Linked DNA regions of Homo sapiens: region 1 is linked to region 2. The links come from fine-mapping of genetic effects on gene expression. A gene starts in region 2. The other region holds a variant in brackets. All regions are shown on one strand. Distances are between the middles of the regions. Region 1 holds the start of ATXN1L (ataxin 1 like). Region 2 holds the start of ZNF821 (zinc finger protein 821).

What was found. PIP is the estimated chance that this variant, and not a neighbour inherited with it, causes the effect.
Region 1: its variant is the best candidate, but not a certain one, in a credible set for the expression of ZNF821 in whole blood (INTERVAL, PIP 0.76).

Annotation. Positions count from the first base shown.
Region 1 is chr16:71,844,816-71,860,161 of GRCh38, reverse strand. ATXN1L (ataxin 1 like) reads right to left here and starts at 14,186. Exons shown (of 3, transcript NM_001137675.4): 1 at 14,058-14,186; 2 at 12,091-12,152; 3 at 2,834-10,538. The coding sequence starts at 10,421. The coding sequence ends at 8,352. ZNF821 (zinc finger protein 821) reads left to right here. Exons shown (of 8, transcript NM_001201552.2): 8 at 1-477. The coding sequence ends at 144. RefSeq lists enhancers at 4,174-4,223, 6,724-6,863, 8,683-9,462, 13,699-13,768, 13,570-14,341 and 2 more and a silencer at 13,989-14,298. The variant T/C (reference allele first, on the strand shown) is at 6,684.
Region 2 is chr16:71,876,738-71,892,083 of GRCh38, reverse strand. It overlaps ZNF821 (zinc finger protein 821), which reads left to right and starts at 7,902. Exons shown (of 8, transcript NM_001201552.2): 1 at 7,902-8,176; 2 at 8,811-8,873; 3 at 12,061-12,177. The coding sequence starts at 12,138. RefSeq lists enhancers at 6,536-7,036, 8,877-9,076 and silencers at 7,617-8,376, 8,397-8,516.

The sequences.
Region 1 (15,346 bases), 32 kb after region 2:
CAGTTTGGCCAGGACCCTTCTGCCATGGCAGCCTTAGCAGCTGAAATGAACTTCTTCCAGCTGCCTGTAAGTGGGGTGGAGTTGGACAGCCAGCTTCTGGGCAAGATGGCCTTTGAAGAGCAGAACAGCAGCTCTCTGCACTGAACCACACCCTCCTGCCTGCCCTCCTTCCCACCTACCTACCCACCCACCCACACCCACAGCCACGAGGACCAGTGCTGCTGCCACCCACGAGGCCCTGTCCTTGCTGCCAGAGGCAGGCCTGGGTTTATTGCAGGTGGACCTGAGCAGCCCTTGCATATGGGAACAGGATGATGGGGTCAGGAGGGACCTGGCTCAAGGCAGCTCTGGACAAGGGAGCAGGCAGTCCAGAGAACTGGCCTCCCCAGCCCACTGCCACAGGCTGTGCTTCTAGGACTGTGGGGCCCCTGTGTGGCCCATGAAGTTGTGAAGTCAAATAAATTAATTTTATCTTTACTGCCCCTTTCTTGCTTTTCTCTCAATGTCATTCTAGCAAATGAAGTGATCTAGGAGAAACCTGGGTGGAAATTTTCAGACAGTGGCTTCTGGTGGCTTGCCGTTTTCTTAGGGAGGATGCTCCTCAGCTTAGGCTGTCCAAGCAGAGGTCCTTATTTGGGCCTTTACAAGTTGCCGAGGAATTAGCATGACACCGAAGAAAGAACCGATGTTGACTGTGATGATTATTCCCACAACCATAATGAAGATACCTGTGGTCCCAAGGGCTGTTTAAACCTAGCTTACCTTTTCCAAACTCAGAAGAAGTCTCTTCTCATAACTGCTGTTTTCTAAAGACTATGCAATACCTTCAACTAGGTGTGCAACTTTTCCCAGCAATATTGTCGAACATTTACAATTCTAGACAGTAGTCAGCTGCATCTAGGAATAGGCTCATAGAAATAGCTGCAATATTAAGGTGCACAGCACCAAGAAACTCATGTTTGCATTTTATTTGTGTTTTATTTGTTCACCAGAGGCAAGGAAGGAAAATAAGCTCACTGAAGAAAATCCAGAATTAAGGTGGTAAGAGAGCTCAGGTTAAGGCTAGGGCAAAATGATTACTCTGGCAGGTTGTATGACTGCCAAACCATGGAGGAGACAAGAGCTGAGGTCATTTCTAAAAAGTTTCTGTGATGGTACAGAACAGGCACAGAACCTTCCTAGCCTGCACCAAAGGTTGTGTTCAGTTTAGATAATTATAGATCTTGAGGTCCAGAAGGAAGTGCCCTAGTTAAATTGTAGCCAGAAAAATAACTATGCCAGGAATGCGGACTTCTTCCAATATCTTAACAGGGAAACTTGGATTCCTCTCTGACCTCCATAGGTCCAAGGCTGTTTAACAGTGTCAACTGACCCCCGCCAAACTAGGGGTTTTGTTTTTTGTTTTTTGTTTGTTTTTTGAGACGGAGTCTCGCTCTGTTGCCCAGGCTGGAGTGTAATGACGTGATCTTGGCTCACTGCAACCCCTGCCTCCCGAGTTCAAGCAATTCTGCCTCAGCCTCCCGAGTAGCTGGTGTTACAGACACGTGCCACCACACCCGGCTACTTTTTGTATTTTTAGTAGAGACAGGGTTTCGCCATGTTGGCCAGGCTGGTCTTGAACTCCTGACCTCAGGTGATCCCCTGCCTTGGCCTCCCAAAGTGCTGGGATTACAGGCGCGAGCTACGTAGAACCCTGCCTGGAGTTTGCTTTTTTGAGAAAGGATATCACTCTGTCACCTAGGCTGGAGTACAGTGACAAGATCATAGCTCACCATAACCTCTAACTCCTGGACTCAAGTGATCCCCCTGCCTCAGCCTCCCAAGTAGCTGGGACTATAGGTGTGCACCACCACACCCAGCTAACAAACTAAGGTACTTTCACCAAGCAGGCTAAAATATTTGTTTTGAAAAATACATTTAAAAGAAAATACTTAGTTGGCGTGCTTGTAATCAATCCCAGCTACTCGGGAGGCCGAAGACGAGAATCACTTGAACCCGGGAGGTGGAAGTTGCAGTGAGCTGAGATTGTGCCACTGCACTCCAGCCTGTCAACACAGTGAGACTCTATCTAAAAAAAAAAAAACAACAACAAAAAAAAACAAACAAAAACTGTTTAATTTACTTAATTGACCCAAATGCCTTTCTCCCAGAGCTCCATACTGGAGTCCTACTTGGGATGCTTTAAAATGACTGAGTCCTCACCATGTGCCACAGATGATTCTAAGCGCTTTACATAGATGATCTCAATCTTCACAAGAAACTCTGAATTCATACAAACTCAAGAGTTGCACCTCTGGGTTCAGAAGTGCCCTGCCACACTAGCTGTGTAACTTTGGGGAGGTTACTTAACCTCTATGTCTTGGCTTCCCCATCCACAAAATGGAAATAATACTAGCAAAAAAAGCTTGTCCGTACATACAAAGCACTTAGGATATTTTGTAGCCCATAATAAGTGTTCCATAAATGCCATTACTAGTGGCAAGCTTTCTAAATTTTAGGCAGTAGCTATGATTGGGGCTGACTTATTCCAGCAATTTCTGGCAGTATTCCTGAGTAAAGAATTGGGGAGAAGGCCAGCAGCGAAGGCACCTACAGATCCTTGTGATTCCACTAGAATCTAAGTGTTCAGGTAGACTTCCGGGTCTCTGAAATCCACACCAACAGAGGGGAAAGACCATGCTTGAGGACAAGCTCATGCCATCTCCCTTGAGCTCACCGCACAAATAAAGCCACCATTTGTGTTCCATTACAACTGCTCCCACAAAGGTTTCTATCCCCCACCCCATGGCCACCATCTAAGGCTGGGATAGGAAGAAGGCGCAAACACCAAAAGGAAAAGCTAGTAGTTTATATAGATAGATATATAGATATATAGATATTGATAGATATTGTGTTTACATAGTCCACAAGTTAAATGCAGGTATCCATAAGAAGAGCATTAACAATAAAAATACAATCTGTGTGTAGCCAAGTACAGAGACTTAAAATGGTAAAACAGCAAAAAGGATCTCACAAAAGTACAAATATACAGTACAAATTGATTTATTTAAAACAGTTACAAAAAAGCACAACAAAATAGAGATTATCCTTAGAATTATTAATGCTTTGTTAAAGATCAGGTAGGATTAGAGGGTAAGAAATGGTATTGGGTGGAGGGAGCACCTGACTAGTTCTAAGGCTTTAGATACAATGCAGTTGATTACATATTAATTCAGCCATTACATACTGGGGATAGTAGATGGGGGATCAGTAATTTATCTACAGGGAACTCCTACACAGATCCATCCAGACCTCCCCAGTGCCATCCTTCTCCACTCCTTAGGACCCTAAAGCCACCTGGATGACAACATTCCCATCCTTTCTCCACCCCATTCCCTATCCGTATATTCTTCCCTCGCCTAAGGTGCTGTGCAAGCTGAGAGCAGTCTGCTCTCTGCAGCTGGATCATATACTGTTTTGGCTACAGGGATCCTGTGTGACTAAGAAGGTTGTAGGGGACAGCCTTATTTTAATACTTTAAGTTAGCCATGAGTACAGTCAGTCCCTCCCCCAACACAATCTAGATTCTCTTGAATGCAAGTATCAGTCAAGTGAGGGATCAACCCTGCCTTCAGCAATACCAGCAATGCACTAACCACTCACAGCTCACAACTACGTGCAAACTCCCTGCCCAGGGGGTGGGTGTAAAACCACTGTGTCATCAGCTCACACTCTTTCTCTGAAGAACCTCAGTCCCCATGACAGTCATAAAGACAAATAAATGCTTGCAAGTTTGACAACAGGTAAAGGCACATGGGCTGCTGCCACACACACTGCAGGCAAGAACCCAATTTGAGGCCATCTTCACTGCTGGGCATTTGCAGTGGAATGGCTTTGGGATCACAAAACTTTGAGTTCGCAATCTACCAGGGAGGGATCTAGGTTTAACTGGAGAACTAATAAAGAAACCTTTAGTGTGAAAAGTGCATTTATGACTATTGTTCCTGCTGGGGAGGCAGCAGGGCAAACCGCAACACCTCTCCTCCTTCCGCCCCAGGCACTGTGCATGGTCTGCAGCTAAGGAGAGAGTGCAGTCGACTCTAGCATCTCTGGGGCCAGTGTCATCCTAGGCACAGACCAGGCTTCTGGTCCAAAGATGGATCCTAGAGTTGAAAGAGCAACTGACAGCTGCAAAGACCCAGATGCTTATTTTATTATTGCATAATGTGGGAGACCTTCCCTACCCCAGGAAAGCTGGAGAGTGAAGGCTTCCCAGCAAAGGGCAAACAGGTTCCTGATCGACATCCAACCTAATAAGGTTCAGCTCCTCAACTGTAGTGTACACTTTTGCCCATCTGGAAGGTACTATAGCTTCAGTGTGGTTTAGTAAACTTAGCCTAGGAGGCCAAGATGTCTCCCTAAAACTTAGTCTCTGTCCTATTTACTTTGTTTATAAGACTGTGACCTAACTTCCCATGGCCAATTCAATCGACTAGGTTATCTTTACTCCAATGGACCCAGGCCTTTTCCCAGTCAATCCATGTCCAACCCTTCATCTCCAGCGTGATCACTCAACTCTTCAACATGCCTGCTTGCTGCAGGTTTAAACCACACCACCATCCTGTGCTTCCCCCTAAATCGCCCATGATGCCCGCAGGTAAAAATAAAACTAAACCCCACTTGAGGTGCTATTTCAGCCAAACTTTAAACCCTCTCCGAACTCCAGAATCCACCTAACTGGAGCTGGACGAACTTCACTGGGATGCTGGCATGGGCCCTAATGTGGTTCCCTTCATTTAGTTTTTAAAACAGGATACAAGATACCACAAAGGAAAGAAGTTAATACAACAGAAGACACCACTAGTAGAAACCTGCTTGTTTCTCCCTCAAGATAGTCAGACATTTGGAGCCAGAGGGCTCCCAACAGCACTGAAGCCTTATCCCTTTGGATTTACCAGCCCACCAGCAGCATTTCATACCATCCCTATCGAACATGACTTCGCTATAAAATAACATGGCCTAACACAGGTAAGAATGAACCGGACGCCTACACTTAATCTACATGGCCAAAGACATGGAAGGATAGGGAGCTGTAGAGGACAGCAGGCAGGACAGTGAGCGGACAGCAGCAGTGGCAAAGCAGCGCAGGGCAAAGCCCTTGGTGTTATGACCAACTGGGACCAAGAATATAGAAGGACCAGCCCAGATTGGCTGGGGGCCCTCCCTCAGGTACAAGTACTCAGCTCTGAACTCCCAGAGCCCCTTCCCCCCATGCCACCTCTTCCTCATGTATACTAATCTTGATAGGAATGATTCAAGACTTGGCTTATTATCCATCCATGACTGGGTTCCCCTATTCCCAAATTGGTATACACATTTTTATACAGCGCCAGACAGTCAGCAGTCCTCCTTTCTATTCCTAAGAGCTGGAAATGTCCTACTGCTGACAAGGGACAGGCTCTGGCCCTTGTCAACTGCTCATTCTTAAAAAGTTGGCAACTTCCCACTAAAATACTCGCTAAAAACTGCTCTCATGTCTCCTGCAAACTCAGGAAATTCCTATAAGGAAGAATGGACACACCACAGGTTAGTCATATTTTTCATGCCTGGAGGAAAAGACTAAACTAGAGGTTAAAGGCAAGGGGGAGGCCACAGCTCTGACCGAGATTTAGAGCACAGAGATTCTTTTCCTGGGGACCATATTTTATGACAGATACCTTTGCAGCTCAGCAAAATCAAGTATTAATATGTTATATATGCATGGAACGATATTGTGGTATTACAGGAACTGCTGGTATTGCTTCACCAGCAAGAGACAGCAACAGAAAGGTCAGGGCCCAACTTGCCAGGGTCCTCAAGAATTTCTCTTTCCAGAATTCAGTGGAAGTTACCAGGTTGGAAAGTCACAAGTAGCCCAAGTGGAAGGTGATTTGATCTAAACTAATTGGTCTGTATCTGGTTAGACATAGGTTTGCCCCATAAGGAGAAAGCTCAGCTTGTGTCCTTGCAGACACTGCTTGAGCATCTACTGTGTACATGTCACTAAATTCAGTTGATGAGCCTTCCTATGAGGAAGGACGCTTGTGAGAAACCCATGCAAACAATGAACTCTAGGAATGAGTTGCTCATGAAACAGCCAGAGATGAGGCCTTCTCCCAAGGCCTTCTCATTTGAGGGGATTCCTCAAGACTCAACCCCACAGGCCCCCACTGTAGGAAACAAGCCAGAGAAAGCAGCATTCAGAGAATGGGGGACAGAGAAGGGGAAAGATATGATCCCAAATGCAGTACAAAGTTGGCGTCTGGTTCTGACACAAACCAGATACTGAAGCACTCACGGTCAGGTCAGCAACCTCCTTTGATGGACCCCCAAAAGCTGACTGACCAGGCAAACTGCTTTCAAGGAATGAAAGAGTGGAGGGTAGGGCTTGTAGCAAACAAGCCAGTTTCAGTCACTCTGTTCCCCCAGGAGAACAACCTTTAGCACCTGAACACTAAGAATGACTCCATTCTCAGAACTTCCCCTCCCCCCAGGAGGTAGGTAAGATTATTTATCCCCATTTGGCAGGTGGGGAGGAAGTGAAAGAGCCAGAGGTCACGAGACTTGCCGAAAGTCCTTGACAGAGCAGAGATCAGACCTCAGAGGTTTGGACTCCTGATGCCAGGCCAGGTCTCGGCCAATCCAAGTATACCTTATAAAGGACA[T/C]GCCAGGATCATAGCCTGGGAGAAGTCTAACCAGAGAGCTGCGTGGACAATACCCTGAGTTGCCTTCAAGAGTCTAAAGACCCCCAAAAAACAAACAAAAAAACTTACCCACCTGAAAGCTAGTGGGGGAGCCTAATTCCCAATACCCAGTGGAACCCCACGGTCTGAGCTGATGCTAAAAGTTGTGAAGAAAATGTGGGATTAAGACATTGGTGGGGGGTAGGGGGGGTGCCAATGCAACCAAGATTGAAAATACTTTTTGCAGAGGAATATACCAACACAAAATGACATCTATTCAGGTACTGAAATGTTATCAAGACTATCCTAGAATCTTAGAGCTGGTGGTGGGAGGGGATGGCTTGGAGGCACCAGAATGCTGGGAGAAGCAGTGGAATAAGACAGGAGGGGCATATGGGACATGTGAAAATGCCATGATGGGCACTGCCCAGCCACGCATTCGCCCTGGCCCAGGGCATAGTTCCCTTCTTGTTTCTTCACCAAGCTGTTTGGCAGTGGAAGTGGAGGGGACATGATTTTGAGATTTTAAAAATAGAGATTATAGCTGAAGGGGAAACCAGAGAGACCCCCTACCCACCAAAAACTAGAGGTCTTGGTCAGAGTGGACAAAACCAACTTTGCAGACAAGGAAAGGCAGTGCAGCTACAAATGAGGCCCAGGTCACGACACCATGCAGCGGTCAGCGCAGCAGGAGGGTGGGGGTGGCGCAGGCACTTGGGCACAACACAGACAAAGGTGGGGGGTCAGTGCCTGGGAAAAAGGGTCTACTAGTTCTAAAGTCACCATTACCAGCAAGATTCTGTGAGATTTCAAAGTGGGTCTGGCATGCTGAGATGGAGGAGCTTTGTTAGGTGAGCTACCTTTCCAGAGGGCCTGCCTAGAACCCAGTCAGCCTGGCTATCAAGTCTTTCTCCCAAAGTCCCCTGACTGAGTCCCTGGCAAGGTAGTACTTCACTCTGAACCCTGAAGGGGCTCTCCCTCCGGGCCCCCGTGCTGCTAGAAGCCTTGTAGGCAGAATGGTGAGGAGAGATGGGGAAGGGCTATGAAGCAGAGGATCAAGCAGAGTCCTGCAGATGAGAGTGCTCCTCCCCCACACACCCAGCCATAGACATCTGGAACAAAATCACCCTTTAAAGTGCGCATCTCTCACAAGAAGGGTTCTGGGTGGGAACCCTCTTATTTCCAACCTTGGGGCCTCCTGCCCTTCTACCACAAAAAAGAAAAAAAACTTCTGACAGTTTAACTGCTACTATAAGCTGTGGATCATCATTTTTGGCTCTTTCTTTACTCCCTCCCTCTGCCATCTGCTCCCAAAGCCTGGACTTTCTCTTGCAGGAGCTAGGGATGGGGAGGAAAGAACAGGGAGGCCCTGATTTTGGAATGTTTCTTCTCCTGTGTGCACCCCCTTCCTTCCTTGCCCCAGGCCTGCTGCTCCCCATCACAACACCCTCTGGGGTTGTCCTGAAAGGATGCCATGGGGTAATGAACAACAGATCCTGCCTTGGGAGGCTGACTTCATGCCTCCCCTTTCCCCCAAATCTCACTGCCAAGAAAGCCATTCCCTGCTCGGCGTGTGCAAATCCTCTGCCTGCTCACGGCGGCGAGGCGAGGCTCTGGGGTAAAGCCCCAGTCCTGGTCTGGGGAAGAGGTTCATTTTCCCGCATTGGAACGCCCTTCAATGGACAGCTTTACCTCCTGTGGAATGAAAGAGGGACGGAGCAGCGCAGCCCGTGCCTCCTCCCCTTGCATGCTGTATCTTTGGAAGCTCGGGGCTGGCCAGCAGGCCTGAGCACCGGACTCAGGCTGGGAAGGCTCTACCACACGGGAGCCCTCTCCTGCCGGCTGGCTCTTCCCCTCACTGTCACATAGCTCTCTGGATCCCAAGACCGTCCTCTCAGGCCTTTCTCGGGGGGGACCCAGCTGGCTTGGGGGAGCACAGCTGGCCTGAGAAACTGAGTTACTGTTCAAGCTCTGTAAACTGATAGAGATGCAGACATCTCCCACCTGTAGCCGATGGCAGGGCAGAGAGAAGAGTTGTGTCGTCCGCCCAGGGCTGCAAGAGGACCAACCCTGGCCATATACAAAGAAGGGGTGCTCGGGGGGCACTTCGATGCTCACTTTGCTCTGCTGCTCACCAACCACAAAATGCAGCATGACAAATCCAGGCCATTGGCTCTCCTGAATGTCCACGACCGTGCTAGAGTCAATCTTCAGCCCCCCGCTCACTTCGGCACTGCGCACAAAATCCTGGGTCTGGAGGTCCTCCACCCGCTTCAGCTCTCCCGTAGCCAGCTGGATGATGGCGCCTTTCATGAAATGGGAAGGCAAGTGAGAGGAGGTAATGGGGGGCGGCGTTGGCTCCTTGTCTGGGAAGGTGGCTCTGGCCTGCACGTCCAGACTTGATGCTACCAGGATCTCCGAGCCCACAGGCAGCAGGCCTGAGTCAGTTCCAGTGGGCACCAGGTTGCCATTGGCTACAACCATTGCTTTGGGTAAAGGTCTATGTTTTACTGGTTCCTGATGGGACTGAGGGTAGAACCCACGGGCCTGACTTTTCTCTGCCAGCTCTGCAGGGTTCCTGGCTGACCCTCGCCCCTCACCCTGATGGTCGGGGGTATGATGGGATAGGTTGAGGGGGCTGGGTTCCTCCTTCCTCTGAGCTGCCACCACACGATAGTCCTGAGAAGCTAAAGCGCCAACCACCCGCTGGACCTCAAGGTCAGTGTCCGGGGTCCCCCGGTGTGCTGGTGCTGCTACCTCTACCCGTGGAGTCTGAGAACCTGAAAACAACTGTCCATCCACCACACATTCTACCACTGGCACCAGTCCCTGGCCTTCACCCTTGCTGTTGGGGGAGTCAAGGGCTTCACTTTCCCGTCTTACTAAATTTCGCTCTCGTGGTCTCTGTCCTCCATTTGCAGCAGCTGCTTCCAGAGCAGACTGGCTCTCCTGAGGGGTAAGAACTGGGCTGGCACCTGCTGGAGGGGTTTCATGCAAAGTATACCCAGCAGGTAGCCTGGACATCTGATAATAAATGGGCATCCGACCTGGAGCAAGGTCCAGCGGCTGAGTACTTGAATGATGTGGCAATTGCCCAGATGGGGAGGTGGCAGAGGGAGCTTTGTTAAATGAGTGGGCCGGGGAGGGAGCCTGTGGGGGAGGAGTGGCTCCTTCAGCCAGAAGTGAGGCATATGGCACAAAGTGTGGAAGGTGAGAGGTGGCAAGGTTGGCAGAAGGAGATAGGAGGGGACTCGGTAGGAAATTAGGTGGCACAGCATAGGGAAGGCTATAAGGAGACCCAATGAACTGCAGCGAGGTGGATGGGAGCTGAGCATAGTGGAGTGGAGGATAGTGGATGCCTGGATGTTGAATTAGTGAAGACGCTACATTAAACGTTGGGGGCAAGGGACTCATATTCACCACAGATGGGAGTCCAGTTGGTGAAAAGGTGGCAGGCGGCACAGCCACCTTATACAGCATGCCATACTGGTCCACTGTCAGACCGGTGATGGCCTCAGCTCCATCACCCCCCAGGCTGACTCTGGCTCCTGCCTGGCTCTGCCCAGCCACCACAACCCCTCGGGACCATTCAGAAGCATCACTGGAGGGTGTGTGGTTAGTGGAGCAGCTGGTAGTTCTCCCCATATCCTCGCTGGTCACGGGGAGGTCTCGTTTCTTTGGTGGAAGGCATTCCTGACTCCTTTCATGAACAGGTTTCATATTGCTTTGTGGTGTTCCTGGAGCCTGGAAGGAGTCGACTTGCTCCCTGGGGCATCAGAAGGGGCTTCTCTGTAGCTTCCCTGTACCCCTCTCTGCTTCTGGCTGGGGCGCCCACATCTATTAGGGAACAAATCAGAGGCAAAGAAAAGTAACCTAGGGATGAGCCAAGACAAAGGAAATAGAAAGAACTGTGCCATGGAGGAAGATGTAACAAAGGGGACTGTTAGAAAATAAGGAGGAAAGAGAAAGGGGCAGACAAGGAGGCTACCCCCAACTCATCCAGCCTGGGACATGAGAGAAACAGTCGGGGAAATCACAAGGCACAAAGAGCTACAGGGACACGCATTCACCAATGCACAAATAACCTGTGGGCTCCACAAGCCCAGGGAGACCAACAGCTTCACGGTTAGTCATGTGTCTCATAAGCACCTTGTCTCTTTTCTGCCTTCTTCCCAAAGGGGGCTTTGAACACATGGTCTTTCCTGCTGGCTCTTTTGCTTTTTTTTTTTTTTTTTTTTTTTTTTAAAACACATGGAGTTTTGCTCTTGTTGCCCTGGCCACAGTACATGGTGCAATCTCAGCTCACCGCAACCTCGCCTCCCGGGTTCAAGCAATTCTCCTGCCTCAGCCTCCCAAGCAGCTGGGACTACAGGCATGCACCACCACGCCTGGCTAACTTTGTATTTTTAGTAGAGATGGGGTTTCACCATGTTGGCCAGGCTAGTCTCGAACGCCTGCCCTTGGGTGATCCGCCCACCTCAGCCTCCCAAAGTGCTGGGATTACGGGTGTGAGCCACAGCGCCCAGCCTCCTGCTGGCTCTTTTTCTTAAGTTTCTCCTTTTGCTACCAAACATGAATGTGCCACCTTCTTTCCTGAACATATGACCTCATCCTTGCTTCCTTTCTGTAGCCTAATTTGGGTTATGATCTCACCTACTGCTATCCCAAGCCTGGCTAAAAACTCTCTTCCTCCTTTGCCTCATCTCATCAGTACCTCAAGGACCTAGGTGCCAAAACCCTCAGGTCTGCTCGTGTTTTGTTTTTTTTTTTAAGACTTTGCTCCCTAACCAGGTTATGAAAATTAACATCTTTGACCCATGAAATAATACATTTTAACTCAGCCTCTATATAGTGAAAGTGATTAAACTAGTTTGCTGTCAACTTGTTTCTCCTCTTCACCAAAGAACAACAAAATTCTAAATTCTTCTGACCTTACGTACACTTCCGGTTCCCTAGTCTCAAAAGGCTTCTTCTCAATGATCACCTTCAATTTGCCTTCTCTATTCATTCCCTTTCTTTTTTCTTTGTGCTTTCTTTTACCAATAGCTCCTTCTCCACTGTAGGTCTGCTCCAGGCACCACTCCATGAAATTCTGGTTCCATTCCTCTAAACATGCCTGTTTTTTTCCCCGTATCTGTATGATTCATAAGAAAGTTCTCTTTCCCTTTTCTCTTATTGTCACCTTTCACAAATGCTTTTGTCCATTGTTATAAAGCAACTTTTTGGTCTGAACACTTCAGTGCACATGAACTTTGCTGCCTATTTCTTCCAACCAGGTTCCAGTTCTTTGGATCTGAAAAGAGCTTTCTATATTACATTCTGTTCTGTTTTTCCACTGTGACATCCCAGATATTTTCCTGAAACAAGGAATTCAAAGTGCCGGTATTACCTGAGTTTCCAGTGGTGCTTCTGAGCAGCTGTAGTAAGTGTCCTCCCGGCTGGCTCGGGAGCCTAGAAGATAGAAACAGGAATGGAGTAAGCGGCTGCCTGACCTCTAATTCTCCCCAGGGTCACCATGAAAGGTAATTCCAAAGCATTAGAGTATACACGTCCTTGCCTCATCTTCTTCTCCACAGGTAAACAGTACATTTACCCAGAGTGCCCAGGCAGTTGAACAGAGAGAAAAACACCTCTAATGCTCCAACTTGTAAGAAGACATCCCTGAAAAAAAATTTCCATGTATCAAATTTCATTGGTTTTCCGTAACATCATTTCCCTAACATCTACCTGTGCCTGTTCCCCAAAGGTTAAATTTGCTCCAATCCAAATTTCAGATAAACGCACAAATAAAAATGGAAGCTTTAACACTGTTCCCATATGAACAATGGGAAGCAGGAAAAATCAACTCTATGGATTTCCCCTTTATTCTGGGCCTATGAAAACATAAATGTGGAGTTATTTAAATGAAAAAAAGCAGCAGTAGATGAAAAAGAACAATTATTTATGTTTCTGGGGCAGAAAAAGAGGTCAGGGGGGAGTCACTCAAGGAGAAGACTTATTAAGAGATTTTCAGGGTTAAAAAAAAATGAGCATATGTGTGTGTGTATGTAAAATTTTCTGAGTGACAGTATACCAAGTGCTGAATCAGGTATGAAAGAAACTGAAAATATTGCCTTGGTCCTCAGCTGGCTAACACTGGTGAAACAAAACTACCACTAAACCATCACTATGTGAATCTACACTTGCCAGAAACGCAAAGCGAGAAAGAATGGAGCCTTAACCTCTGAAAACAGAGAAGGCAGTACAGATGAGTGAGTGCTCTGAGAAACTGACTATCCTGTCCAAGTCCTATAGAACACTCTAAGCCTCAACCCAAACCGAATGCAACATTTCTCTCTTAAGATTGGCAAGGTGCAGGTGTACACAAAAGGTGGAAGGATAGGAAAACACAGTGGGAAAACAAATTCCTAATTCCACAAACACATATTATTACACAGTGGCATAAATAATGACTCTTTTCTCCACCAGCAGCTTTAATAACTGAAAAGCAGCTTGCTTTCTTCTTCATTCCCAACAGAAACTGGGGTCACACTTCAATCCCAAAATGATCCTTGCTTTCTGTAACGAAAACTTTAAAGAAAACCTGCCTCCAGGTCACCGAGAAGTTAGCAAACACAGGCTAGTAAAGGGACCGAAAGAGGCAAAAGGTCTGCAGAAAGGAAAACAAAGAGCCAAGCCTGTGCGCCAGGTTCCCACAACGCAAAACACACTTAAGAATCCGAAACCTCCGCCTCTCGAGAACCTCACTGAGCATCTCAAAGGGAAAACGCAGCTTGTGACCCCAACCGAGCTAACAGGCTGTTCAGGAGAGTTGCCAACGCTGCTAGCAGAGCCCGGAACCAAGCTCCTCATCACGCTTGGGTCGGAATCAAGGGGCTGAACCCAGCTGGAGACCCAAATTCTCTGCGGGCGAGAGGTGCGCCCGACAGAAAGGGAGAAGCTTGTCAGAGACTACGGTTATGGCTCCCAGTGGTCCCGCAATCCTTGATCCAACAAGGGTAGGGCTCGAAATTGGGAATTCTGCGTTTAGAGAGTAGGGGGTCCACCCTTCACCAAGGGGGCAGGGGCGAGGCCCTGCAGGCGACGCTTCCTTGTTTGGGGGCCCTTCCCGCCCCACAGACTCGGACACCTTGGCTCGCAGGCACACAGCCTCCGGGGCGCCGGGGCCTGAGGCCACCTTCCAGGACAGGCCAGAGAGAAGCGCGAGGGGGTCTAGGTGCGGCCTCTCCCCTCCGTCTGTCCACGGTTCATGGGCCCCGGCCCGCCGGAGCAACGGGCTCCTGAGGGCCACTTCCTCCGGAGCACCGACCCCAGGCCTGCCTGGCCCCGGCGGCCACCACTTCCAGGGACACTCACCAGCCCATTTCACAGCGCTTCCCAGGATCCACTCACTCGTCCCGGAGCCGCCGCAACCGCGGCCGCCGCCATCCCCGGCCCCGGAGCCGCCCCACACCCAGCGCCCCCCACAGCCGGGCGCCCGGAGATGGCGTCAAGCTCGTCCCGCCCCCGGCGCGGAGAGATTGCGTCACGGCCGGGGTGGGAGAGCAACGCCCAGGACTCCCCGGGAAGGGAGGGTGCCACACTGCCTTCGCGTCGGGCGTTCCCTCTGGTGGGTGAACAAACTCCTCTCCCTGGGACCGGGTCACGTGAATAGGGCTGGGCCCGGCCCCCTCAGCCTGACCCCACAATGACCCCGCAATCTTTCCACCTCAGTAAATTTTGGGGGTTCCCAAACAGAGCCCCGGGGCGTGGTCATCGGCGACCCCCCATTTCCTGGACTTCTTGTCCTGACTTGTGCAGCCCCTTCTGGGGAACTTCGGGGGACCCCGAGGTGACCTAGGCTCAGGAGAAAAGGAGATACCTCTTACCTCTTGGGGACCCAGGTGGAGATAGGAAGTCTTCTTTTTTTCTTTTCTTTCTTTTTTTTGGAGACAGTTTCGCTCTTGTTGCCCAGGCTAGAGTGCAATGGCACGATCTCGGCTCACCCAACCTCCGCCTGCCAGGTTCAAGCAATTCTCCTATCTCAGCCTCCCGAGTAGCTGGGATTACAGGCATGCGCCACCACACCTGGCTAATTTTTTGTATTTTTAGTAGAGACAGGGTTTCTCCTTGCTGGTCAGGCTGGTCTCGAACTCCCGACCTCAGGTGATCCCCACACCTCGGCCTGCCAAAGTGCTGGGATTACAGGCGTGAGCCACCGTGCCAGGTCAATAGGAGCTCTGTAAGTGTTGAGAAGTGGCCCCCGAGGGAGCTAAGAGTGAACCCCACTCAGGATCTAGGGGAAGGTGACAAGGAGTGGAACACCTGAAAGTTTAGAGAGAGCCCGGGGTTTAGTACAGTGAGAAGCAGCTTGGTTTAGTGGAAAGAGGGCTTGACTACTCAGTGAAATATTATTCATTACAAATTAACTAATTATTCATTACAAATTAACTGGTCAACTTCATAGTAACATGAACATCTGATTAACTTAAGTGAAGACAAAAGTGAGCGCCAGTTGAATTTATGTTTGAATAACAACTGTGTTTTTGTTGTTGTTTGTTTTAAAGTATTAGGTTGGTGCAAAAGTAATTGCGGTTTTGGCCACCGAAATGGAGACTTTCAGTTTCTTCAAACTCTGTTCAATAAATAACAATTGGGCCAGGCGC
Region 2 (15,346 bases):
GTCGCAGCCTTACAAGTACCAAGTAGCTGGGATTACAGGCATCCACCACCAAGTCCAGCTAATTTTTTTTTTTTTTTTTTTTTTTTTTGAGACGGAGTCTCTCTCTGTCGCCCAGGGTGGAGTGCAGTGGCTCAATCTCAGCTCACTCCAACCTCCGCCTCCCGGGTTCAAGCGATTCTGCTGCCTCAGCCTCCTGAGTAGCTGCTACAGGCCTGCACCACCACGCCTGGCTATTTTTAGTAAAGATGAGGTTTCACCGTGTTGGTCAGGCTAGTCTCAAACCCCTGACCTCATGATCCGCCCGCCTCAGCCTCCTAAAGTGCTGGGATTAAAGGCGTGGGACACCACGCTTGGCCGATTTTTTGTATTTTTAGTAGTGATGAGGTTTCACCATGTTGGCCAGGCTGGTTTCGAACTCCTGACCTCAAGTGATCTGCCGGCTTCGGCCTCCCAGGGTGCTAGGATTACAGGCGTGCGCCACCATGCCCAGCCGACATGATTCATTTATTCGTTTAGAAAAATTGCTTTCTACTCGGGAGTTGTAAAGATTTAGCAATCATCACCTGTGTCCTGGGCTTTAACAAAACCTACCTGTCTATTTAGATCCTGTAATATATCAACTGTGAATTGTACCCCAACAAGCCAATTATTCGAAACAGTATCTCTGAGGGAATTAAAAAACACAATATTATCTCTGTCCCTGGCTGAACAGACAAGTTTCATTCAGAAGCTAAACATACTGAAAAATAAACACTGTTTCCCTTGAAAATCCAGTTTTGCTGTTGGGACAAATGTTAACACATTACATTTCTTTGGTAACTAACCAGGTACTTTTTTTGTGTAAATGACTATAACTAGTAGCTGTAACTAAAACCAGACACAGTGTTTGAGCCCAATAAAATAAGAATCTATAACAGGCCTGCAAGCCTTAATCAGCCAACCTGTTTTGTGTACAGCCTCTCCAGCTAAGAATGATTTTTATATTGTTAAAAGGTTAAAAAGCAGGAAGGGGCTGGGCGCGGTGGCTCACGCCTGTAATCCCAGCACTTTGGGAGGGTGAGGCGGGCGGATCACGAGGTTAGGAGATGGAGACCATCCTGGCTAACACAGTGAAACCCCGTCTCCGCTAAAAAATACAAAAAAAAATTAGCTGGGCGTGGTGCGGGCGCCTGTAGTCCCAGCTGCTTGGGAGGCTGAGGCAGGAGAATGGCGTGAACCTGGGAGGCGGAGCTTGCAGTGAGCCGAGAATGCGCCACTGCACTCCAGCCTGGGTGACAGAGTGAGACTCCCTCTCAAAAAAAAAAAAAAAAAAAAAAAAAGCAGGAAGGGGAGGAGCATGAATGTGTGACAGTGACTTTATGTTGCCCACAAATCCCAAAATATTTACTATGTGGTCCTTTATAGAAAAAGTTTGCTCACCTGTAATCCCAGCATTTTGGGAGGGTAAGGCAGGGGGATCACTTGAGGTCAGGAGTTCGAGACCAGCCTGGTCAACATTGCGAAAATCTGTCTCTATTAAAAATACAAAAATTAGCCAGGTGTGGTGGTGCACTGTAATCCCAGCTACTCAGGAGGCTGAGGCAGGAGAATCACTTGAACCTGGGAGGCAGAGGAGGCTGCAGTGAGCCGAGATTGTGCCACTGTACTCCAGGCTGGGAGACAGAGTGAGATCCTGTCTGAAAAAAAAAAAAAAGTTTGCTGACTTCTGCATAAAAGTACTACACATTGTGTAAGAGAAAGAAGGGAAAGATGATGGGCATAGAGTTATTTCCTTTGTTTTAACTATTAACATTTAGACTAAAGAATATACAATGAAACAAAAAAAGAAAAAGAAGAAAAACAATAAAAAAAAGAATATACAAGGATATAGGAACTGCTCTGGACATCTTCCTAAAGCCTAGGAAAAAAAAATCAAGATCACTTGTTAAAGAACCCATGAAACAAGTCTTCAGAAAACTAATTAATGTCACTAATTAGGGCTATATACAAATATTAACTTATCTTTGTGGCATTTTACAGTTTACAAAGCACCTATAAACACATTATCTCAATTTCAGGCTGACATTTCTGTGAAGCAGCTGCAGGTCAAAAATCATTTTTTTGTTTTTGTTTTTGTTTTGTTTTGCCTGAGACAGGGTCTCGCTCTGTTGTGCAGGCTGAAGTGCAGTGGTGCAATCATGGCTCACTGCAGCCATGATCTTGGGCCCAGATGATCCTCCCACATCAGCCTCCTGAGTAGCTGGGACTATAGGCACATGCCATGCCACCATACCTGGGTAATTTCTTATATTTATTTGGTAGAGATGGGGTTTTGCCATGCTGCCCGGTCTGGCATTATCAGGTCAGGTTTTTTCGGGTTTTCTTTTGTTTTTGTTTTTTTGTTGTTGTTTTGTTTTTTGTTTTGTTTTTTGAGACAGAGTCTCACTCTGTCTCCTAGGCTGGAGTGCAATGGCATAATCTTGGATCACTGCAACCTCCACCTCCCAGGTTCAAGTGACTTTCCTGCCTTAGCCTTCCAGGTAGCTGGGATTTACAGGCATGCACCACCACACCCGGCTAATTTTTGTATTTTTATTAGAGAAAGAGTTTCACCATGTTGGCCAGGCTGGTCTTGAACTCCTGATCTCAAGTGATCCATGCACCTCAGCCTCCCAAAGTGCTGGGATTACAACAGGTGTGAGCCACCGCACCCGGCTATTGTCAGTTTTTATAGGAGGAAAGTGAAGCTTAAAGCTATGAAGTGACCAATCTAAGGTCAACAGCTATAAATGCCAGGATCAGATCTTGAACCCAGACTTTGACACTGAACATCATATATTTTCTTTTCATTTATTTATTTTTTATTTTAAGACATGGTTTCACTCTGTCATCAGGCTGAAGTGCAAGGGTACTATCACAGCTCCCTGCAGCCTCAAACTGCTGGGTTCCCATCTCATCCTCCTAAGTAGCTTGGACTACAGGTACATGCCACCATGCCTGGCTAATTTTTAAAAAACATTTTTGTAGAGACAGGATCTCACTATGTTGCCCAGACTGGTCTCAAACTCCTGGCCTCAAGTGATTCTCTCACCTCAGCCTCCCAAAGGCATGAGCCACCTCGCTTGGCCCGATTATATACTTCCTGTATATCCATGTTTCCATAATAATTTCCAGCCCTGTTTTACTTTCAATTTGTGTATATGGAGTTTATCAATACATGAAAATAAAATGCATTAAATCACAGTTATTACTGTGATTTGGGTTCATATATAAGATCAAAAAATTTTCAAATCAGGTTTTTACATTTATCATCATTGTAATCATCTAGAAAACTTAATTTTTCCTTAAATGAACTCAAAGCCATGAAAACTTGTAACTCTAGATTCTAAATATAAACACAAAAGTTTAAACATTGTCCTTTAAAATATCAGATTTTTATCAAGACTGTATGATAGTGGCATAAGGATAGGCATATAGGTCAATGGAATAGAACTGAGAGTCCAGAAATAAACCCATGCATTTATAACCAATTGATTCTCAACAAGGATACCAAGACAATTCAAAGGGGGAAAGAACAGTCTTTACAACAAATGGTGCTAAGAAAACTGGATAACTGCATGCAAAAGAATAAAATTGCCCCCCACCCCGGCCTCACACCATATGCAAAAACTAACTCAAAATGGAGTGAAGACCTAAATGTAGGAGCTAAAAAACTCCTAAGAGAAAACATAGGTGTAAATTTTCATGACTAGGCGGTGATAGTTTCGTAGACATGGCATCCAAACCACAAGCAATGAAGGAAAAAATAAATTAGACTTCATATAAATCAAAAACTTTGTGCTTCAAAGGACACTATGTGCCGTGACCAAATAAATAAAAATAAATATTATTTTTATTTGGGATACCAAATAAATAAAAATAAATTTTAGGCCAGGCGCAGTGGTTCATGCCTGTAATCCCAGCACTTTGGGAGGCTGAGGCGGGGAGATTGCTTGAGCCTAGGTGTTCCAGACCAGCCTGAGCAACATGGTGAGACCCCGTCTCTACAAAAAATACAAAAATTATTCAGGTGTGGTGGCGTGTGCCTGTAAGGGCATGCCAGTAGTCCCAGCTACTCGGGAGGCTGAGGTGGGATGATCACCTGAGCTCAGGGAGGTCAATGCTGCAGTGAGCTGTGATCATACCACTGTGCTGCACTCCAGCCTGGGCAACAGAGTGAGACCCTGATTCCAAAAAAAAAAAAAAAAAGACAACTCAATTTAAAAATAGGCAAAGGATTTGAATAGACATTCTCCAAATGGTCAATAATAAGCACATGAAAAAATATTCAACATCCTTAGTCATTAGAGAAATGCAAATTAAAATCACAATGAGATATGACTTTATATCCACTAGGGTGGCCATTAATGTCAAAGACAAACAATAACAAATGTTGACCAGGTTGTGCAGAAATTGGAAACACCATATGTTGCTGATAGGAATATAAAATGGTGCAGCCACTTAGGAAAACAGTTTAGCACTTCCTCAAAAAGTTGAACACAGAGGGCTGCGCGCGATGGCTCACGCCTGTAATCCCAGCACTTTGGGAGGCCGAGGCGGGCGGATCACGAGGTCAGGAGATCAAGACCATCCTGGCTAACACGGTGAAACCTCGTCTCTACTAAAAATACAAAAAAAATTAGCCGGGCGTGGTGGCGGGCACCTGTAGTCCCAGCTGCTTGGGAGGCTGAGGCAGGAGAATGGCGTGAACTCAGGAGGTGGAGCTTGCAATGAGCCGAGATCGCGCCACTGCACTCCAGCCTGGGCGACAGAGCAAGACTCGGTCTCAAAAAAAAAAAAAAAAAAGGTTGAATATAGAGTTACCATTTGACCAAGCAATTCCACTCTTAGATATATGTATGCACCCATGTCCATACATAATGTAAAGACATATGTTTACACAAAAACTGTACACAAATGTTCATAGTAGCATTATGCATAGTAGCCAAAAAGTAGGCCCAAGCCAAATATCGTTCCACTAATGAATGGATAAATAAAATGTGGCATATCCATACAACAGAATATAATTCAGCCATAAAAAGGAATTAAGTACTGATATATGCTACAACATGAATGAACCTTGAAAACCTATTAAGTGACAAAAGCCAGATTAAGTGACAAAAGCCAGACACGAGAGGTCCCATACTGTATAATCAATCACATTTATATGAAATGTCCAGAATAGGCAAATCCACACAGACAGAAAGTAGATTTGTGGGTGCCAGGAGCTGGAGGAAGGGAGAATGGTGAGTTACTGCTACTGGGTATGGGATTTCTTTTTGGGGTGATGAAAATATTCCGGAATTAGATACTAGTGATGTTGTCAACCCTGTGAATGTACCAAAACCCACTGAATTGTACACTTTAAAAGCATGAGTTTCATGGTATGTGAATTATACCTTAATTTAAAAAAATGTAACATGAGGTTCTTAAAATCCTCCTACCTTTATTGTTGGAATATAGAGCCCTAACAAGGTCATTGTAGAAGCCAACAAATATAAAATGGATTAGGAAGATATTTCAAGTGGAAAGTTAAATAGTTGAAGTGGCAAAATGATGACATAACTGTGAGTAGATTGGGAAAGTAGAAAAAAGTGAAGCTAAAAAAATATATATGGTTAATTAAAAGGTCTTCTAGATGTAGAACAAGTTTAGGTGAAAGCAGAGGAAAAATAAATTAATTCTTCTTTTTTAAAGAGACAAGGGTTTCACTATGTGGCCCAAGCTGGCCTCAAACACTTGGGCTCAAGTCATCATACCATCTCAGCCTCCTGAGTAGCTGGGACTATAGGTGCCAGCCACCATGCCTAACTTAAACTAATTACGTATTTAATAATTTTTTCATTATTTGGTTGTAACCTTGAATCACAACACCTCTGAGAAATTTTTAGAGCACAGGGAAGTCATAAGAATAGCATTATTATCATCTCATTTTATTTGGAAGTCAAGGAGATGGAATAAGCTGCCCAACATTACATAATAATAATGCATCCAAGAAATTTCACTGGAGGCAAACTTTACCTGTTTGCTACTTTTCTGTTGAAAATGTCAACTAAGTCAGCTTTAAAGTGACATAATAAAGCCATACTTGTATCCCTCAGTCCAAACTGATCAAGAATTACTGTTAAATATAAAAGCCAGTGTGTATTCTAGGTTGTATTCTTACACAAAATAGTACAAACACTTGCGGGTTGGATGATAATATTCCATTTTCTGTCTACTTGGAAACTAAGTTTTTAAATGAAATTAAAATGTTTCCTTGACTGAAGTTAAACAACAATAATTGCTATCTAAGTATCCTAATCACAATAAATAAATGAGTGAATGATGAATGAGCTATTTATCACAGAATTGTGAAGGACCAAGATCCCTCAATGTAATCATTCTATTACATTGAACACAAGATGCAGACAATGAGATCATCTCATAAAAGATTTAGGGGAAAGACAATTTGCAAGAATGTTCTATGCAAATACCAGGACTTGTCACTTTATCAGCAAATGACAGCATCCTCGTTAGCCCTGCCTTTGTGCAGCCAGTAATCACGAAAAACATTTGCATGATGCTTTTAGCCATTTGTTTTACTTAACTGGCACAACAACCCTCGGAGAGTAAAGGCCAGGAATTATTGCATCATTATCCATTTGACATCTTAGGAAGCAGAGGCTCAGAACAGGGAAGTGACTTGCCCAAAGTCAACAGGCTGGTGGGTGGCAGAGCTGGGGCTCAAAGCCAGATCTTCTAATACCAGATCTCATCTTCTTTCCTCTGCATTCCCTGCTTCTCCAGGTAAGCGATGCCAGGGCAGGCTCAGGCATTCTAGAAGAGAGGAAGAAAAGAAGGCAACAGGAACTAGGAGAGAGAAGGACGTGGACAGGAGGAGGTGTTTGACTAGAAGTGCGTCCAACCAGGCCGGGCACAGTGGCTTACGCCTGTAATCCCAGCACTTTGAGAGGCCGAGGCGGGAGGATCACCTGAGGTCAGGAGTTCGGGACCAGCCTGGCCAACATGGTGAAACCCCGTCTACTAAAAATACAAAAATTAGCTGGGCGTGGTGGTGCACGCCTGTAGTCCCAGCTACTCGGGAGGCTGAAGCACGAGAATCGCTTGAACCTGGGAGGCGCAGGTTGCAGTGAGCGAAGATCGCGCCATTGCATTGCAGCCTGGGTGACAGAGCGAGACTCTGTCTCAAAAAAAAAAAAAAAAAAAAGGTCCAACGGCTCTCCATTGCCCCCAAACATCCCTCAAGTGACAACAGTGCCACAAGTTCCCCTGCCCCTGGGTCTGCAGCCAATGTTATTTTATCAGTTGAGAATCATGTCAGAAAATTAAATACTCAAAAGAAATCTCAAGATTTCCCAGCTCTGAGGTTCTGACAGCTGAACTTGGCCCCTCCCACCAAGGCCCGTGGTCACATTCAAAGCCTCGGGAGCCGAAGCCACCGCGAAGCGTGGGGGAATGAGGCGAAGAGGGTTTGTGACGGTGGTGGGGATCCGGGCTAAGGAGAGGGGGTGCCTGCGGCGGAGCTGTGGTTGGGGGTTGTGGGTTTTGTGGCTGAACTCGATGGTGGGGTAAGAAACCAGGATCGGGGCTGGGTAGGGTGGCGTTTACACGTCCAGGAAGGTCTGGGGGAGCTGAGCGGCTGAGACAGCCAGAGAAAGACCCGGGAATGGGCGAGGCGGGGGGTTCCGGAGCCCTGGAACGCGGGCGAGCCCCTCTCGGGCGCCCGGGATTGGGCGCTCCCCGGAGCCCCTCCTCTCCAGAGCCCCTCTCCTCAGGCCCCGCCCACAACGCCAGGCGCGCGCCGGGCCGCGGGGAAGGGGACCTGGCCGGCGCGGGGGAGGGGGAGAGGGAGGCTCGTGCACGCGCCTCACTAGCTGCGGGTGCGCGAGCCGCGCGCTCCCGCCGCCCGCGTCGCCATCTTTTTCCCCCTCCGTCTGTCTGTCTGCTGTTGGCTTTGTCCGTCTGCAGCGCCGCCCCTCGGCTCCCCGCCACCGGCTCGGCTCGGCCCGGAGCCCCTTCCGCTCGCCGGGGCCCAGTCCCGGAGCGCCCCGGCCCGGCTGGCTTGGGCTGCGGTCCCGGGTCCATTGTCCGGCGGTCCGTCTGTCCGGAGGCGGGGCCCAGGGACCCAGAGCGCAGCGCAGCGCCGAGGCGCCGGGTAAAAAGACCCCCTGCCCTCCCTCCGGGTCCGGGCTGGGGATGCGGGCTCCTCGCCCCCTCGCGGCCGCCGGCTGTTGGTCCTTTTGTCTGCACTGGGGAGAGGGCCGGGGGCCAGCTCCGGCCTAGGGGGGCAGCCCGGGCTCACCCTCCCCGCTTCCAACCCCAATTCCTCCCCGGCCGCTCCTCCTGCTGCCCCTTGGCGCTCTCGGGCGCGGGGCGCGGGGTGCGGGGCCGGGGGGCTTTTGCGCGGGCCGCGGGCACCCCGCCTCCTCGGGCCCCGGCGGGGACGGCCCCGGCGTCTGACAGCCTTGGGTGGAGCTGGGGGAGGGGAGGATGGGCGTGGGCGTGCAGACCGGGGGGTATCAGTCCCCGCGTCTGGGTCTCGCAGAAAAGCTTCTAAATTTAGATTTCGGAGATTGTGTTGTCTAAGGGTTTGTCTGAGCCGCCTCGGAAGACCTCCGGCTCTTGTCAGGCTCTTGTCTGGTAATTCCTGGGAATTTACCTGGGCTCATGCTTGAAGAAGCAGAGGGACCATCTCGGCTGATTAGACACGCCCCAGACCCAACCCCAGGGGTCAGGTGAACAGCCAGGCGGCTAAGTGACCAGCTTTCTTGTCCTCTCCTTTTTGGCAGATACAGATCACTTGGATTCAGTCGAGTTTGCTTTGCTCCGTGGGAACTGCACCAGAGCTGGAGGTGGGAACGCACTCTCTTTTCATCAAGCTGAGATTTCACTCGTTTTTTTTCTTGCCAAAGTCTGTGGTGTGCCCTAGACGCTGCAACCTAATACCTGTGGGAGAGCAGAGACAGTGTTCAGGGGAGACGTTGCACCTTCCCGAGGACTCTTAACCTTGCTCTGAAGACAGACAGAACTGCTTTCCTTTTAAAATGGAATCCCTTTAGACCTGAATCTCACCGTTTACCTGTCTTCCCAGCCCATGTTCAGGCAGCTATCTATTTACATTTTTGGTTTGGTTTGGTTTCAGGTTTTGGCTTGGAAATTGAGGCAGTGTTAAAAGTAAAACAAAATGAGTGACCTTTAGGGCTGTATGTCTCTGGGTTTTATTAGCTTTAACTGCCTATAAAACAAGTCATCTGGCCTCTGAGATCTTGCTTTGTGGTCAAGAGTGTCCTTTCAGCGCCATTTATTTATTTACTTATTGATTTTCAACAGCCCATGACCCCACAGGCCTGTTTTTGTGGGTGTTTTTGTTATTATTTTCGTTTCGTTGTGTGGGAGGGGACTGTAATTGCTTATTTTTCTCTTGATCACTCAGGTGTGAAGTCCCATTGGGTACCATCTGGTCAGTTCCCCATTTGGCCACTAGGAGGATTATAAGATGCAGCGGGCATTGCTGATTTAAATACGCAGACACTCATCTCTGTCTTTTGACTTGGAGCTTTAATATTGAAATGTTGTCTGGTTCAAATTATTTGGCCTTCCTTCAGAAGGGACTTTATTACCTTTATCTTACAGTTTCAGTTTCTGATCTTGAAGGGAGAAAATATAAAAATTAGTCAAGATTCTGTTTTTTCTTCTATAATAGAGTATATATATATTTAGCCTCAATAGATTATCACATTAGAGGAGTATATTTTATTTTTTTAAATTTTTATTTATCTTTTTTTTTTTTTTTTGAGACGGAGTCTCGTTCTGTCGCCCAGGCTGGAGTGCAGTGGTGCGTTCTTGGCTCACTGCAACCTCCGCCTCCCGGGTTCAAGCAATTCCCTGCCTCAACCTCCTGAGTAGCTGAGATTACAGACATGCATCACCACGCCCAGCTAGTTTTTGTATTTTTAGTACAGACGGGGTTTCACCATGTTGGCCAGGCTGTTCTCAAACTCCCGACCTCAGGTGATCCACCCGCCTCAGCCTCCCAAAGTGCTGGGATTACAGGCGAGAGCCACCGCCCATGGCAGTTTTTTATCTTTTTTTGAGATGGAGTCTCACTCTGTTGCCCAAGCTGCAGTGTAGTGCCTCCATCCCAGCTCACTGCAACCTCCCCTCCCCAGGTTCAAGCGATTCTCATGCCTCAGCTTCCCGAGTAGCTGGAATTTACAGGTGTGCACCACCATGCCCAGCTAATTTTTGTATTTTTATTAGAGGTTTCCCCATATTGGCCAGGCTGGTCTCAAACTCCTGGCCTCAAGTGATCTGCCTGCCTTGGCCTCCCAAAGTGTTGGGATTACAGGCGTGAGCCACGGTGCCTGGCCATATTTTTAAAAATATTAATAGAGCCTGCATTTCATTACCTTTCCACTTGGTGATTCCACACACATATAGGAAATCCAAAGTGTGATATTCATTCACTGCTTCCGTGAATAAAACAACTACTTGATTAGAAAAAAATGACATACACAAAACTTAGAGAACATACACTATCAGCACTCAGTATATTGCCCTCTAAATAGTTTAAATTGATTTTTATTGTATACATTTAGAGTTTTGTTTTGTTTTGTTTTTAATTAAAGGTCTGAAAAAGAACTGTGTTTGATATGCAGATATGCTAGAAGACTGCCTGAAAGCTGCTTCCTTTGCCACTTCCTGTGGAGGCCTGTCTTTGCCATTTGCGGTTTCTTTATTCTTTTGGTAAGGGGAGGCAGGATCTGATTATAGGTTTGAGGTCCTTCTAGCTACATAGAGGAGTTAGTTGGCATAACAGGAGGTGAGTCTTCATTAACTGGAGTACAAAATATAGCTAGCAGTAGTCTCCCATAACTCCTCTTAAGGCAATAAACTATGATTTTATGTTTGCTTATTCAATGTGAGTATAACTCAAGAAGGCAGGAACTGAAAGAAAACTTAAGAGTGTGACCAGATCCATATTCCTGTCTTTGGTAGGAAAGACAATCCCTTTTTATTCTATGTCTTTATTCACTCTTTCTAAGAAAATGACACAGCTATCAATACTAATCCATCTCAGATTCTCTAACAATGCTTAAGGCTGGGGCACTCTTTCTGTAGTTAATCAGGAACCTTCAGGCTTACGTATATATCCCCTCCTATATGGGGTGGGGAGCAGATGCATGTCTTGGCAGCATTTTTCGTTTGGGGAACTTTTCTCTTTATTCCTCCCACTGTTCTCTTTGCTACCCAGAGGCTAGATTGAGAAGAGCCTCTAAAGTTATTAACTTTGACCACCTCTCTGGAATGTGTGAGGAGGGCCAGGTGGTATTCCACACTGGGGTGTTGAATTAGTACTCATCAATGTGGATGGCATCTGTCTCTTCTGGTGAGAGCCCATCTTCAACATTAGAAGTTTGATTTGCTTAGTGCCATGTCATTCACAGTGCAGCATAGCATTGCGCCTGTATCACCAGATAGAGGCTTTATTTCCCATGCTGTTCTCATTTACAGATGCCTATTTGAGACATTTTCTGTCTCGCAGGGATGTGATGCCTTTGCTACCTCTAGGCAAGATAACATCATGAAAAATCCGCTGGTGTAGACTGCAGGGCTTGACTTCCAGTGGGCATGTGACATGTGAGCTGCCACCCTCTTTGGCTTCCTTTTGCTTCCTTTTGCAATTCATCGGAGTTATCCCCTTGAGCCCACAGTACTTCTAACCCTGGATGCCTGAGTTTTACTTCCTCTTTTATCCTGTGACCTTGATCATGATCACTTAACAGTATTCTGGATTCCAAAGATGGATTTAGAGTATAATTCTCTAAGTCCTCTGAGGGAGTCCCCTCTTAAACTTTCTGGGACCTTGACGTTAGGCTAGAGATTTATTCATTTCTTTCTTTCTTTCATTAGTTCAATTATTTATAACTGGTGAGTTTTATATGCTCAGGAGCTGTTTTTTAAGGACATTTTATCTTTAAATTTTGTGTAACTGCTGGGGAAAATGACATGTGCTAACAATAACCTTTTTTATTGCAGGTTAGCATCTTGCAAGGAGGTAGTAACATATCCAGTCGTGAAACTGGGAAAGACCAGAGCTCTTGCATCAGGGAAACATGTCCCGTCGGAAACAGACAAATCCAAATAAAGTTCACTGTGAGTATCGGGCTTTGTCTTCTGGAACCTGGGAATGCTAAGGGGTGGAATGGAAGAGTAACCTGAATTTAGGGGAGAAGCTCACGCTAATTTGTGAAGAAGAAAAGTTTAAATGTAAAACACAGTTTGCTGAGCAGAAGAGAAAAAAAGAAAGAAAGAAAAAGGGTTAAAAATGTTGGAAATGGTGGATTTAAAGTGTGTCTGGTTGCTGGGGGAGGTGTTGGAAACCTATCTTAGGGGTATGTACACTTGATATATCTTTAATATCACATTAACAAACAGTTATAGGATACCTACTCTCTGCAGATCCTTGTGCTAGATGTCAGGGCTCTAAACCAATATAAGATCTATAAGACCGTATTGTAACCTCAGATATATAAATATGAATGATAGTATATGCTAATTGCCAAACAGATGCTGCAGACTGTATGTACTAGAGAAGTTCGGAGGAAGGAAGTTAAAAGAGCTCAGTGGACTGAAGTAGCAAGGGGAATGCTTAATGGAAAAGCCTCTAGACCATGCGCCTGAACTGGGCCTTAGAGGGTAGAAAATGGATTTGAAAAAAAAAATTAAAAAACAAGAGGCAGGGAGAGGGAACATCAGGTAGGGAAAGTGAAGTGAGCAAAGACAGAAGCGGGAATCCACATGTTCAGAGGACAAGGAGACTTTATATGAAGCAGAGGTCTCATTTGTTCAAAAGTCAGAAGATGTGAGGTTAGAGATGCTTAACTCTACACGTGGAAGGCTGAATGCCAGGCCAAGTTCAAAGTTCATTCTATAGTCCGTAGGGAACTACTGAAGGTTTTTAAGCAGGGAGAGGGGAGTGACATTTAGAATACAGCGTTTTGGTACTATGAAGCAATTTGTGGGATGGATCACAAGAGGGAGAGGCTAGAAACCAGAAGGCCAAGTATACACTATTACCTTGTGTTGTTTTCAACAGTGTCACATGCATGTTTTTCTTTGCTTTTTTTTTTTTTTTTGAGACAGAGTCTCGCTCTGTCACCCAGGCTGGAGTGTAGCAGTGTGATCTCTGCAACATCGGCCTCCTGGCTTCAAGCAATTCTCCTGCTGCAACCTGCCGAGTAGCTGGGATTAAGGTGCTCGCCACCATGCCCAGCTAATTTTTTTGTATTTTTAGTAGAGACAGGGTTTCACCATGTTGGCGAGGCTGGCCTTGAACTCCTGACCTCAGGTGATCTGGCCACCTCGGGCTCCCAAAGTGCTGGGATTACAGGCATGAGCCACCGCACCTGTTGCATATTTTATTTCAGTAATTGCATAGTAAACTTCTAGAAGGCAGAGACTATGTGCCATATGTATTTCCTTATGTATCCTCTTTACTTCTAGCACTACTCATAGAAGGTGTTCAAAAAGTGCCTTCTTAAATTGACATTAATATCTACACAGATTTGAGATAATTAGCCATTTTCCTATTATCTGGGAAGATAATCGTTCCCACCCAAATGTTCGTTAAAAAGACAAATAGTGGCCGGGCGCGGTGGCTTGCACCTGTAATCCCAGCACTTTGGGAGGCCGAGGTGGGCCATATCACCTGGGGTAAGGAGTTGGAGACCAGTCTGGCCAACGTGGCAAAAAACTCATCTCCACTAAAAATACAAAAAAAATTAACCAGGCATGGTGGCAGGCACCTATAATCCCAGCTACTCTACTTGGGAGGCTGAGGCAGGAGAATCACTTGAACCTGGGAGGTGGAGGTTGCAGTGAGCCAAGATCGTGTCACTGACTCCAGCCTGGGCAAACATAGACTCCATCAAAAAAAAAAAAAAAAAGACAAATAGTTCCCTATTATTATGAACTGTTTGAGTAAAGTGCAGCAACATTTGAAGAGAATTCAGAGGTATAACAGATGAAAAGTTTGTAAAAAACAAAAAACCTATATATGTGTGTATATATATATAAAATATATATACATATATATTTATATATATTTTATTTTTTTATATAATATATATAATTTTTTTTTGAGATGAGGTGTTGCTCTGTTGCCCAGGCTGGAGTGCAGTGGCGTGATCTCAGCTCACTGCAACCTCGACCTCCTGGGCTCAAGCGATCCTCCCACCTCAGCCTCCCGAGTAGCTGGGACTACAGGTGCATGCCACCACGCCCGGCTAAATATTTGTATTTTTTGTAGAGACGGGGTTTCACCATGTTGCCCAGGCTGGTCTTGAACTCCTGAGCTCAAGTGACCTACCCACCTCAGCCTCCCAAAGTGCTGGGATTATAGGCATGAGCCACTGCAGCTGGCTAAAACCCTACATTGGAGAGGACAGATTAGTCAAGTAATTGACAAGATAACTAAAATTTCTTAAAAACATGCTATATAGGCTGGGCGCAGTGGCTCACCACTGTAATCCCAACACTTTGGGAGGCCAAGGCAGGAGGATTGCATGAGCCCAAGAGTTCGAGACCAGCCTGAGCAACATGGCAAAACCCCGTTTTTTCAAAAAAATACAAAAAAACTAGGCCTGGGGGCATACATCTATAGTCCCAGCTACTCAGAAGGCTGAGGTGGGAGGATGGCTGGAGCCTGGGAAGTTGAGGCTGCAGTGAGCCAAGATTATGCCACTGCACTCCAGTCTGGGTGCCAGAGTGAGACCCCGTCTCAAACAAACAAACAAAAACCAAAAAACTATATCCCAGGCACTATGCACTTTATCTGAATCTTACTGGGTTACTTCAAGAGTAGAAGACAAAATAGTATAAACAGAGGAATTAAGAGGGTTTTGACATTTTATACATTAATGAGATTACAATAGCAAACCTCCATATAAAATTCTTTCTTCTATTTAAGTCCCGGAAAAGTGTAAAACGGAACGAGTTGGATGCTTCTAGGAGTATATTCTGGAATGGGGGTGTGCAAAGGCTACTTAATACACAGATGAGTGGTTTAGGGAAGATTTAGAAATTGCTGCTAAAACAGCAAAATGCAGTGGGCTTGCACGTGAGGATTGTCAAGGAAGATAAAATGAAGTATCTTTAGCCGAGCTCGGTGGCTCATGCCTGTAATCCCAACACTTTGGGAGGCCAGTGCAGGATAACTTGAGGCCAGGAGTTTGAGTGCAGCATGGGCAACAAGGCAAAACTCCATCTGTACCAAAAATACAAAAATTAGCTGGGCGAGGTGGCACACACCTGTAGCGCCAGC